Linked DNA regions of Homo sapiens: region 2 is linked to region 1. Evidence: fine-mapped expression QTL. Tissue or cell type: unexposed skin. Region 1 holds a variant in brackets; the other region holds the start of a gene. All regions are shown on one strand. Distances are between the middles of the regions.

What was found. PIP is the estimated chance that this variant, and not a neighbour inherited with it, causes the effect. A credible set is the group of variants that fine-mapping cannot tell apart.
Region 2: PLA2G15 starts here. The variant in region 1 is the best candidate, but not a certain one, in a credible set for the expression of PLA2G15 in unexposed skin (GTEx, PIP 0.52).

What each region holds. Positions count from the first base shown.
Region 1 is chr16:68,276,122-68,281,492 of GRCh38, reverse strand. All of the region lies in intron 3 of SLC7A6 (solute carrier family 7 member 6), which reads right to left. Among named protein-coding and RNA genes, the nearest start is that of SLC7A6, 14 kb to the right of the region's middle. The variant A/G (reference allele first, on the strand shown) is at 2,927.
Region 2 is chr16:68,242,775-68,248,145 of GRCh38, reverse strand. It overlaps PLA2G15 (phospholipase A2 group XV), which reads right to left and starts at 2,773. Exons shown (of 6, transcript NM_012320.4): 1 at 2,593-2,773. The coding sequence starts at 2,719. RefSeq lists enhancers at 1,807-2,307, 3,429-3,967 and a silencer at 2,724-2,953.

The DNA of each region.
Region 1 (5,371 bases):
TTCTCAACCTCAGCACTATTGACATTTTAGGCCAAGTAAGTCTTTATTGTGAGAAGCTGTTCTGTGCATGGTGGTATGTTCAGCAGCACCCCGACCTCTACCATTAGAAGCAAAAAGCACCCCCTTCCAGGAGTTGTGACAACCAAAAGTGTCTCCAGATATTGCTAAATGTCTCCTGGAAGATAAACTCCCCTCTGGCTGAGAACCACTGTTCTAGGATAATTAGTAGGTAAAATAAAATAGCCTGAAATCTGCAAAAAGCTGCTTGGATCTCCTTGCCAGTATAACCTGGGAAGGGGATGGGGTACAGCCAGAAAGCCAGGATCTGAAAGTGCAGTGCCTTCAGAGGCCAGGAAAGTAATATGAGTGAGCAAAGGCAAGAAAGTCTGGGGATAATACAAGAAGTGGAGGACTACAGTGGACTGGGGAGTCCATACTCCATTTAAAAGGAGCCACAGCCGGCTGGGCGCCGTGGGTCACGCCTGTAATCCCAGCACTTTGGGAGGCCGAGGTGGGCGGATCACGAGGTCAGGACATCAAGACCATCCTGGCTAACATGGTGAAACCCCATCTCCACTAAAAATACAAAAAATTAGCCAGGCGTGGTGGCAGGCACCTGTTGTCCCAGCACTCAGGAGGCTGACGCAGGAGAATGGCGTGAACCTGGGAGGCGGAGCTTGCAGTGAGCCGAGATCGCGCCACTGCACTCCAGCCTGGGTGACAGAGCAAGACTCTGTCTCAAAAAAAAAAAAGGAGCCAGAGCCCTCCACAGAGGCTCATGCCTGTAATCCCAACACTTGGAGAGGCTGAGGCAGGAGCATCACTTGAGCCAGGAGTTTGAGACCAGCCTGGGCAACATAGGGATACTCCTTTTAAATAAACAAAAAAGAAATTTTTTTTTTTTTTAAAGAAGCTACGACTACTGAAATCCAGCTTATTTTATCGGGCAGGAATTTGGGTCCAATGATGCCTGAACTTTTGATTTTTCAAGAGAAAAGGCAAGTCCTGATTTTCAAATGTTGGCAACTAATTCAAAATTATTTACAACACCACAAACCAAACAAATCTATCTCTGGGGCCCAAGTCTGGCTCACGGGCCACCAGCTGGCAGCCTCTGCCCTAGAGTTGGTTATATACAGACTTCCTGGGCCCTCCCTTCTAGGATGGAAGTGTCTAGAATGGCGTGGCTATAACTTGTTTAGGCAGTCTCCCAACCAACAAGCCGGACCCCTCTCATGCCTCAATTTCAAGACCAACTTAATTCTCCTATCCTACCGAAGTCTTACCCTAGATTCAGTGCAGACCTTTCATTTCTTTCCCCTAAATAACCTAATTGGTTTCGTGCAATTTATGTCTCCTGAAACCACGTTGTTCCCACTGCCGCCTCTACTCAAGGAGACTCAGCATATCCTAGCTCTGTTGAAAGCCTGATACTGCAACCTAAGTTCCAAGAAGGGAAGTAAGCTGAACCCTAAAGCCTACCCTAGTCGGAAGAGAATATGGTTTTATGACTTGGCCACTACTATGACAAGCAAGTTCTTGCCCTCAGGCCTAGATTCTGGAAAAGCCAGTGCTTCTAGGATAGAAAGCCTGCAGGAATTCAGATCCCGAGGAATCTGGATGAAAGTACATGTTGAATGAAAGAGGCTGGCGGGCCCACACTTACAGGCTCACACCTATGATCCCAGCACTCTGGGAGGCCAAGGTGGGCAGATCACTTGAGCTCAGGAGTTCGAGACCAGTATGGCCAATATGGTAAAACCGCATCTCTACTAAAAATATAAAAATTAGCCAGGCATGGTAGCTTGCACCTGTAATCCCAGCTACTTGGGAGGCTGAGGCAGGAGAATCACTTGAACCTGGGAGGTGGAGGTTGCAGTGAGCCAAGATTGAGCCACTGCCCTCCAGCCTGGGCAACAAAGCAAGACTCTGTCTCAAAAAATAAAAATAAAAGAGAAAATCGAGGCAGCAATTAGTTAACTCCCCAAGATCAACAGTTGGTCAATGATAAAGCTGAAAATTAAATCCAGTCTGGCATGGAGGCCTGCAATCCTAACCACTATACTATACTGCCTGGAGATTGCTTATGTATCTTCAAACCATGTTTTCTAAGAGTATTTGATGAAAGAGATTAAATATGAAATTTTTTTTGAGACAAAGTCTCATTCTGTCACCTAGGCTGGAGTGCAGTGGCATGATCATAGCTCACTGCAACCTTGAATTTCTGGGCTCAAGGGATCCTCCCTCCTCAGGCTCCCGAGTAGCTAGGATTACAGATGCACACCACTGCCACTGCCACCATGCCTAATTTTTTTTTTTTTTAGAGGTGGGGTCTTGCTTTGTTGCCCAGGCTGGTCTCAAACTCCTGTGCTCAAGTGATCCTCCCTCCTCAGCCTCCCAAAGTGCTGGAATTACAAAAGCCATGAGCTACCATGCCCAGCCAATATTAATTTTTTTTTTAATTTTATAAAGCAGTCAGCCGCCCCATCCAGGAGGGAGGTGGGGGGCAGCCCCTGCCCGGCCAGCCGCCCTGTCCGGGAGGGAGGTGGGGGGCGCCTCCGCCCGGCAGCCGCCCTGTCCGGGAGGTGGGGGGCGCCTCTGCCCGGCCGCCCCTTCTGGGAAGTGAGGAGCCCCTCTGCCCGGCCGCCACCCCGTCTGGGAGGTGTACCCAACAGCTCATTGAGAGCGGGCCATGATGACGATGGCGGTTTTGTCGAATAGAAAAGGGGGAAATGTGGGGAAAAGATAGCGAAATCAGATTGTTGCTATGTCTGTGTAGAAAGAAGTAGACATAGGAGACTCCATTTTGTTCTGTACTAAGAAAAATTCTTCTGCCTTGGGATGCTGTTGATCTATGACCTTACCCCCAACCCGGTGCTCTCTGAAACATGTGCTGTGTCCACTCAGGGTTAAATGGATTAAGGGC[A/G]GTGCAAGATGTGCTTTGTTAAACAGATGCTTGAAGGCAGCATGCTCGTTAAGAGTCATCACCACTCCCTAATCTCAAGTACCCAGGGACACAAACACTGCAAAAAAAAAAAAAGGCCGCAGGGTCCTCTGCCTAGGAAAACCAGAGACCTTTGTTCACTTGTTTATCTGCTGACCTTCCCTCCACTATTGTCCTATGACCCTGCCAAATCCCCCTCTGCGAGAAACACCCAAGAATGATCAATAAAAAAAAAAAAAAAATTATAAAGCAGTATACAACCTACAAGAAAAGATGACCTCAAAAGGTATTTATGGCTGGGCATGGTGGCTCATGCCTGTAATCCCAGCACTTTGGGAGGCCAAAGCAGGCGGATCACGAGGTCAAGAGATCAAGACCATCCTGACCAACATGGTGAAACCCCGTCTGTACTAAAAATACAAAAATTAGCTGGGCATGGTGGTGCGCACCTATATTCCCAGCTACTCGGGAGGCTGAGGCAGGAGAATCTCTTGAACCCGGGAGGTGGAGGATGCAGTGAGCCAGAGGTTGCAGTGAGCAGAGATCGAGCCACTGTACTCCAGCCTAGGCGACAGAGCAAGACTCGGTCTCAAAAAAGAAAAATAATAATAATAATAATAATAGGCCAGGCATGGGGGCTCACACCTATAATCCCAGCACTTTGGGAGGCCGGGTGGGCAGATCACCTGAGGTCAGGAGTTCAAGACCAGCCTGACCAACATGGAGAAACCCTGTCTCTACTAAAAATACAAAATTAGCCAGGTGTGGTGGCACATGCCTGAAATCCCAGCTATTCGGGAGGCTGAGTCAGGAGAATCGCTTGAACCCAGGAGGCCGAGGTTGCGATGAGCTGAGATAATGCCATTGCACTCTAGCCTGGGCAGCAAGAGCGAAACTCCATCTCAAAAAAAATTTTTTTTAATTAAAAAATAATACAAGGCCGGGCGCCGTGGCTCACACCTGTAATCCCAGCACTTTGGGAGGCCGAGGCGGGCGGATCACGAGGTCAGGACATCGAGACCATCCTGGCTAACACGGTGAAACCCCATCTCTACTAAAAATACAAAAAATTAGCCGGGCACGGTGGCGGGCGCCTACTGTAGTCCGGGCTACTCGGGAGGCTGAGGCAGGAGAATGGTGTGAGTCGAGATAGCGCCACTGCATTCCAGCCTGGGCGACAGAGCAAGACTCCGTCTCAAATAAATAAATAAATAAATAAATAAATAAATAAAAGTACTCTTCTCGACCAGCTTGACCAACATGGTGAAACCCCCTCTCTACTAAAAATACAAAAATTAGCTGGGCGTGGTGGTGGGCGCCTGTAATCCTGGCTACTCGGGAGGCTGAGGCAAGAGAATCATTTGAACCCAGGAGGCAGAGGTTGCAGTGAGCTGAGATCATGCCATTGTACTCCAGCCTGGGTGACAGAGCAAGACTCTATCTCAAAAAAAAAAGTACTCTTCTTTTGGTGGTAGATTTTGGATGACTTAAGAGTAATTTAATTTTCTAAATAAACATGCTTTGTGAGGTTTTTTTTTTGTTTTGTTTTGTTTGGAGACAGGGTCTTGCTCCGTTACCCAGGCTGGAGTGCAGTGGCGTGATCATAGCTCACTGCAGCCTCGACTTCCCGGGCTCAAGAGATCCTCCCATCTCAGCCTCCTGAATTGCTGGGACCACAGGCACACACCAACATGCCCAGCTAATTTGATTTTTTGTAGAGACAGGGTCTCACCATGTTGCCCAGGTTGGTCTCAAATTCCTGAGCTCAAGCAATCCTCCTACCTCAGCCTCCCAAAGTGCTGGGATTACAGGCGTCAGCCACCATGCCTGGCCTAATAAACATATTTTATAATCAGAAAATTATTCCCTTTTTTAGAAAGCTCAGTCAGACCAGAGTCTCCCTAGCCAAAGCCTATCAGACATACAGCTGAGCAGCCGCCTTCCCTAATCCTAAGGGTATCCGTTTCCCCCTCACTATCCCAAGGAATATGGAGCGTTTTCCCTTTAATTTGTCTTTAACAAATTCCATAAAGTCAAGAGGCATGGGTATTCTACAGTCCTTTATTGCTAACTCCAAGGTACTCTCAGGCTATTTTTAACACTGGATAAACTGCATATACTGCCAATGCTTTTGCAAGCAGAGATGTGGAAAGAACAGAATATTATTAAGTACCTCTGGCAGTACAGTGCTAAGGAACATAGAATTCTGGGTCTTTCTCATTTAAAACACTAGTTCTGCAAGGCTGGGTAAATTCACAGCAATCTTTTCTCCTTACTACCCCATAAGAGAAAAAGGAAAATAAAGAGGGATCAACTGAGATCTCTCAGGTTCTATCTGCAGAAACTCAAATGTGGCCGCAGGCAGAGCTTGTTTACAAAGTCAGTGTAAAGAAGTCTGATACACTAGGAAGAAAAGGTGTTTTGTTG
Region 2 (5,371 bases), 33 kb after region 1:
TAAAGGCCAGAGTCCAGTAAGGTGCCAGAGAGCAGATCATCTGGAGGGCCCTAGCATGGCTGGGAGCCCGTATTGGAAACAGCCACCCTGAACCAGCACCATTATCACCACAGTCCAGGCCCTAGGGTGACTTCTCTCCATCCCAGCCATCCTATTCAGTGTACTCAGAACTCTGGGGCCCTGGTGACACCCAAATCCCTCCCCACTGCGTCAAAGCCCTTCACAGTCTCGTTACTCCCATTGACCTTTCGGGCCTCACCTGCCCCCACATGCCATGCTCTCGCCACTTCCCAAACACATCCCCGTTTAGGGTCCATGATCATTGAGTGAAAAACCAGCACTTGGCTCTCCTGGACATTCACTGGGAACTGACCGTAAATCCACCCTGAACAGGGCGTGCCCTCCCTGGGCACCATCCCAGTGTCTTCAGGGTGCCATGAGAGGCAGGGGCGGCACATGCCTTCACCTCCCTTCATGGTATGGGTGCAGAGGGAGGGAGTCCCTGTCATGACAGCCTCTGGATGACATGCCTGTGGACTGGGCAGGGCAGGGCAGAGACCCTGGTCACTGTCTCTACCAAAGGGGAAATGGTAAAAGAGGAAGTCACCAGATCTGCTTTGCTCAGATGCTCCTTACCCTGGTCAGGCTGTGTGGCCCCTAAAAATAGCAGTGGCCACTTCCTGAGCCCATCTGCGCCTGGAACTAGGAAAAGAGCCATCCACATGCCTTTCACCTCAAGTAACACTGGGAGGGGACAGCCTTACTATTTCCACTTAACAGATGGGGAGACTGAGGCTGCAAGAGGTGGAAATGGCCTTGCCTATGGTCCCTTCCCCTTGCCCAGGGTCTTCTGTATCACATCGCTGGTCTCTCTTTCCTCCACCACCATTTCAGGATCCACCCCTAGAGGATTCTGATCTTCTGACAGTCAAGGTCAGATCCCTGCTCTGTGCCCAGGAGCTGCTTATCCAACTGCCCACCGTGAGGTCTCCCAGGGCTAAGGCCAGCAGCCTCACTCCCTGAGAAGCTGGGCATGTTAGGACTCCTGCTGCTCTGTGATTCTGGGTGGGGTCTGAGGCTCTTCTGCTGTGACCAAGGATAAACAGACTGACTGAATTGATGAGTGCGGTTAGCATCAATCCAGGCAAAATGGCTATGTGCCATTTTGTGTGCCACAGACCACATGCTTCCTAATGCCACGCCCCTCAGACTTAGAACTCTGCAGGCCAACCCAGGACTCCCTGAGGCCCTCAAGATAAAGTTCAGATGACCCAACCAGTCACAAGTCCTGTGCAGTCCACTCCTCCTGTGACTCGATCCCAGGCAGCCTGAGATGCTCACGTCTCTCCCCGACCCATTACTCTCTCCTGGCCTTAGCTCCAGCTATATACTCCAGGAAGCCTTACTTGACACCCACCCATCCAGGCTGGGTTGGTGGATTCTCTGTGCTTGCCCCACACAGACTTCCTCTCTGGGGATCACTGTTATTCCTATCCTGCAAGCTTTGGGGAGGCAGGGCCAAGTCTGCCCAAATCCCATGGTGAACCTGGGCCTAGTATCCCCCTGGAGCTTTTCCTGGCTGGGAACTCCTGGTGGGGCCTGCCTGGCACCACCCTACCTGCCAACTCTACCCTTCTGTGATTTGCATCGTCCCCATTTAAAGTACTCTCAGCAGAAAGAGCATGGAGATCATGCTGCACTAGACTCCACGTGTAATTCATGCCTCAGATGCCTCTGCTTTCAGGAATCCTGGCTGGCCACGGACACACCAGCTCTGGATGGGAGTGACGGCCTCAATGAGGCACCCAAGGCCCCCCAGACAGAGGTCTCATCCCTGCCCATCCCTGCAAGGAAATACAGTGGCCGTTGTAGAGTTGCCAGGGTTGTGATCAAGGAGCGGGGTGAGCAGGGGAGGTCACCGAGCCTCCACATAGTCTAGTCCAAGCATGTGTGGCAGGGTAAGAGTACAAGCATGTTGCCTGACACAGGTTCATGGCCATTGTCCCAACCCTTTCCCCTGACTTCAGTTGTCTTCAGTTTCCCTTAGGCCTTTTCCCTCAGGCAATGCCACACATCTGATAAGTTGTGGGAGTTGGTGGCCAGCTAGGACAGCAATCCTTTCCCTAAGGAGGTTCCTTTCAGCAATGCCTTCTGGCATATGTGGCATTGGAGGGGTCGAGGGTGACAGCCTCCTAACCAGGCCCAGGTCGATGCAGAAGTCAACTCAGGAGCCACTCTACACACCCCCACCATCCCTCAGGAGTGGGGCTGAAGCACCTGTCTTTCCAGCTTAAAAATGGGATAAGGGGAGGCAAGGCTTGGGAATGATGCGGACAGGTGGAACTATGAATAACCAGATGGTAACTCTCCCACTCACCCCCATTTTCTACCAGGACAGGAGGTGGGGAGCTGACCACACCCGCGCCCAGCATGGCGGGAGGTGAGCCGGCAGATCTAGATCACCTAAGTGACAAGACAGATACCAATACGCTCCCCCATTTCGTGACTGGAACAGAAGCAGACCGGGAAGGCAGCCCCGCCCGCGGCCCGTCCCGCCCGACCGACAGATCCACCACGAGACCCGTGCCTCACCCAGCACCACTGGGGGGTGACGTCCGGCCGGGAGCGCTGGGTCCGCGAGCAGCATTAGCAGCAGCAAGAGGAACAGGAGGCCATCCGGGAGCAGCCCCACACGGTAGGGGCGGAGGTGGAGGCCCATGGTGTACGACGGTCGCCGCAGGTCCGGGATGCAGGTTCAGCTCTCTGGGCTCTCGCCTAGGCGGGGGCGGTGGCGACGCGCTTAACCCCGCCGCCCGCATCCCCCGCATCCCCCCGGCCAATCAGGGCCCGCCTCCCGCAAATGGCTGGCCAATAGGGACTCGCCGCCATATACGCCCCTCCCAGTCGGAGGTCGCCGCCCCGCCCTTGCCCAACCCCCTGCTTCCTGGACCACGCTGAGCGCCGAGCGCATCGATGGATCGAGGTATCGCCTGGCTCCGGGCTGTCAGTCGCCCACCCGGGAACCCAGCTCGCCGCTGCTGTACCCCGCCCAGCCCTGGGTACCCGAAATCCACGCTGCGCAGCTCTCACTTGGCGACCCCCTGACCTGGAGGATCTGGAACGGACAAGACCGGGAGAGGATAAGGGGTGCAGCGCTGGCCGCTGCTGAGCGACCCCGGTTAAAGCAAGAAGAGAGGAAGTGAGTCCCGGACAGTTCTTGGGCCTCAGGTGACCAGGAGCTGACCAGGACCTTTGTGCAGCCCCCACACCAATTCTTAGCACACCCTGCCCCGAGGGCACCTGGGTGCGGCCAGTCAGCCCCTGTAACTCTGCCCCGGGGTTACAGATGCGGGGGGAACCGGGAGAGGCCAGGTCAGCATGTTCAGTTCCCAAGAGAGGGGTTAATCTGTTCGTTTTAGGGGCGCAGAGTGCAGCGTCACCCCGCCAGTCCGGGCAGTTCGGGCGCGGGGTTGGGAGTGGGCTTGAGTCTCGACCCTGCGCCATGGGCCATCTGCAAGTTCCCCTGCAGAGCAGGAGAGGCATCGGGAGCTCGTGGTCCCCCTCCACTCTCGCAAACCTGGGGAACCAGAGAGGACATGGACTCCCTGCGCCAGGAAGCAGGGGCGAACAGAGTGGGCAAAGACCTGACAGCTGGTTATATGCCAGCACCATAGGTCACTGTGGGATAGAGGGACGAGAGTATTTGGGAAATAGAGGTCTTGATCCTCCACACACCCACCCCTTCGAAGGGGCAGCTGCACCCTGGTCATCCCACCTGGTCCCAAGAAATTTGTCCTGCCCCTTCCTTCCTTCTTCTTGGTAAGCAGCTGACCTGGCTATGAAGCCACTATCTTGCCCTGCCCTTCTCGAGTTCTTATAGTGAAACATGTTGGTGACTGGGCTACCACCACCCTCCCTCTTTCTTTTTTCTTTTTCTTTTTCTTTTTTTTTTTTTTTTTGAGACAGAGTTTCGCTCTTGTTGCCCAGGCTGGAGTGCAATGGTGCAATCTTGGCTCACCGTAACCTCCGTCTCCCGGATTCAAGCAATTCTCCTGCCTCAGCCTCCCGAGTAGCTGGGATTGCAGGCATGCGCCACCACCCTGGCTAATTTTGTATTTTTAGTAGAGACGGGGTTTCTCCATGTTAGTCAGGCTGGTCTTGAACTCCCAACCTCAGGTGATCCACCTGCCTCGGCCTCCCAAAGTGCTGGGATTACAGGCGTGAGCTACTGTGCCCGGCCCCTTTTTCTTTTCTTTCCTTTTTTTTTTTTTTTTTTTTTTTTTTTTGAGAAAGGGTCTCTCTGTCACCCAAGTGCAGTAGCACAATCACGGCTCACTGCATCCTTGACCTCTCAGGCTCAAGCAATCCTTCCCACCTCAGCCTCCTGAGTAGCTGGGACTACAAGTGTACACCTCCAAGCTCAGCTAGTTTTTTATTTTTTGTAGAGTTGGGGTCTCACTATGTTGCCCAGGCCAGTCTTGAACTCCTGGCCTTAAGTGATCCACCTGCCTCAGCCTCCCAAAGTGCTGAGATTACAGATGTGTGCCACTGTGACCAGCCCCACCCTCTCTTAAGGTCCAGCCATCTCCCGCTAAGGCCCTGGCTCAGAACTCCCACTCCCAAAGCCCCTGCCTCCCCCACCTTCACCCGTGACCCAACAGAAGATCAGTGAAGACCCATCTGGTGAAAACCCAGCGTGGGAGACCAGAGACTCTTCTGCAGGCCTAGGGACGGGCAGAAGTCCAGTCAAAGGTTATGTGGAGGAAGAGAAGGATCAAGAGGTGCTGGGCCACCTTGGACTCTGGCCACAGTCTAAATGTCTTGCCAGCCCAGCAGCATCCGGTGACCATGGGCCCCTGGAAGGGTAGCCCTGTCCTCAAGAGGGGTTCCTTGGTGCTTCAACCCCACAGGCCCTGCATGTGTTAGGAACCACAGCCATTAGGGGCAGGATGGCAAGGCCTGGTCAGCAATGACCCATGCTGGCACTGTGGAGAAGGGTCAGAAAGTGAGGGTCCTCCCTTTTCACAATGACTCTGCCATCCACCTGATCCCCCAGGCTGCAGACTTGGCATCATCCTGAGCTCTGGATGCTTCCATGCTTCTCAGAACCACAACTCAGGTGGTCATAAGGGCTTGCCAGCTCTACACTCCCCAAACCACACTACCCTATTCCCACAACAGCCTCGTCACTGATGTCCCAATGCACGCCCTCGTTCCTGTGGGTCGTTCTCCACATGCCAGGCTGACACCTTTTTTTTTTTTTTTTTGAGACAGAGTTTTGCTCTGTCACCCAGGCTGGAGAGCAGTGGCGTGATCCCGGCTCACTGCAACCTCTGCCTCCTGGGTTCAAGCGATTCTCCTGCCTCAGCCT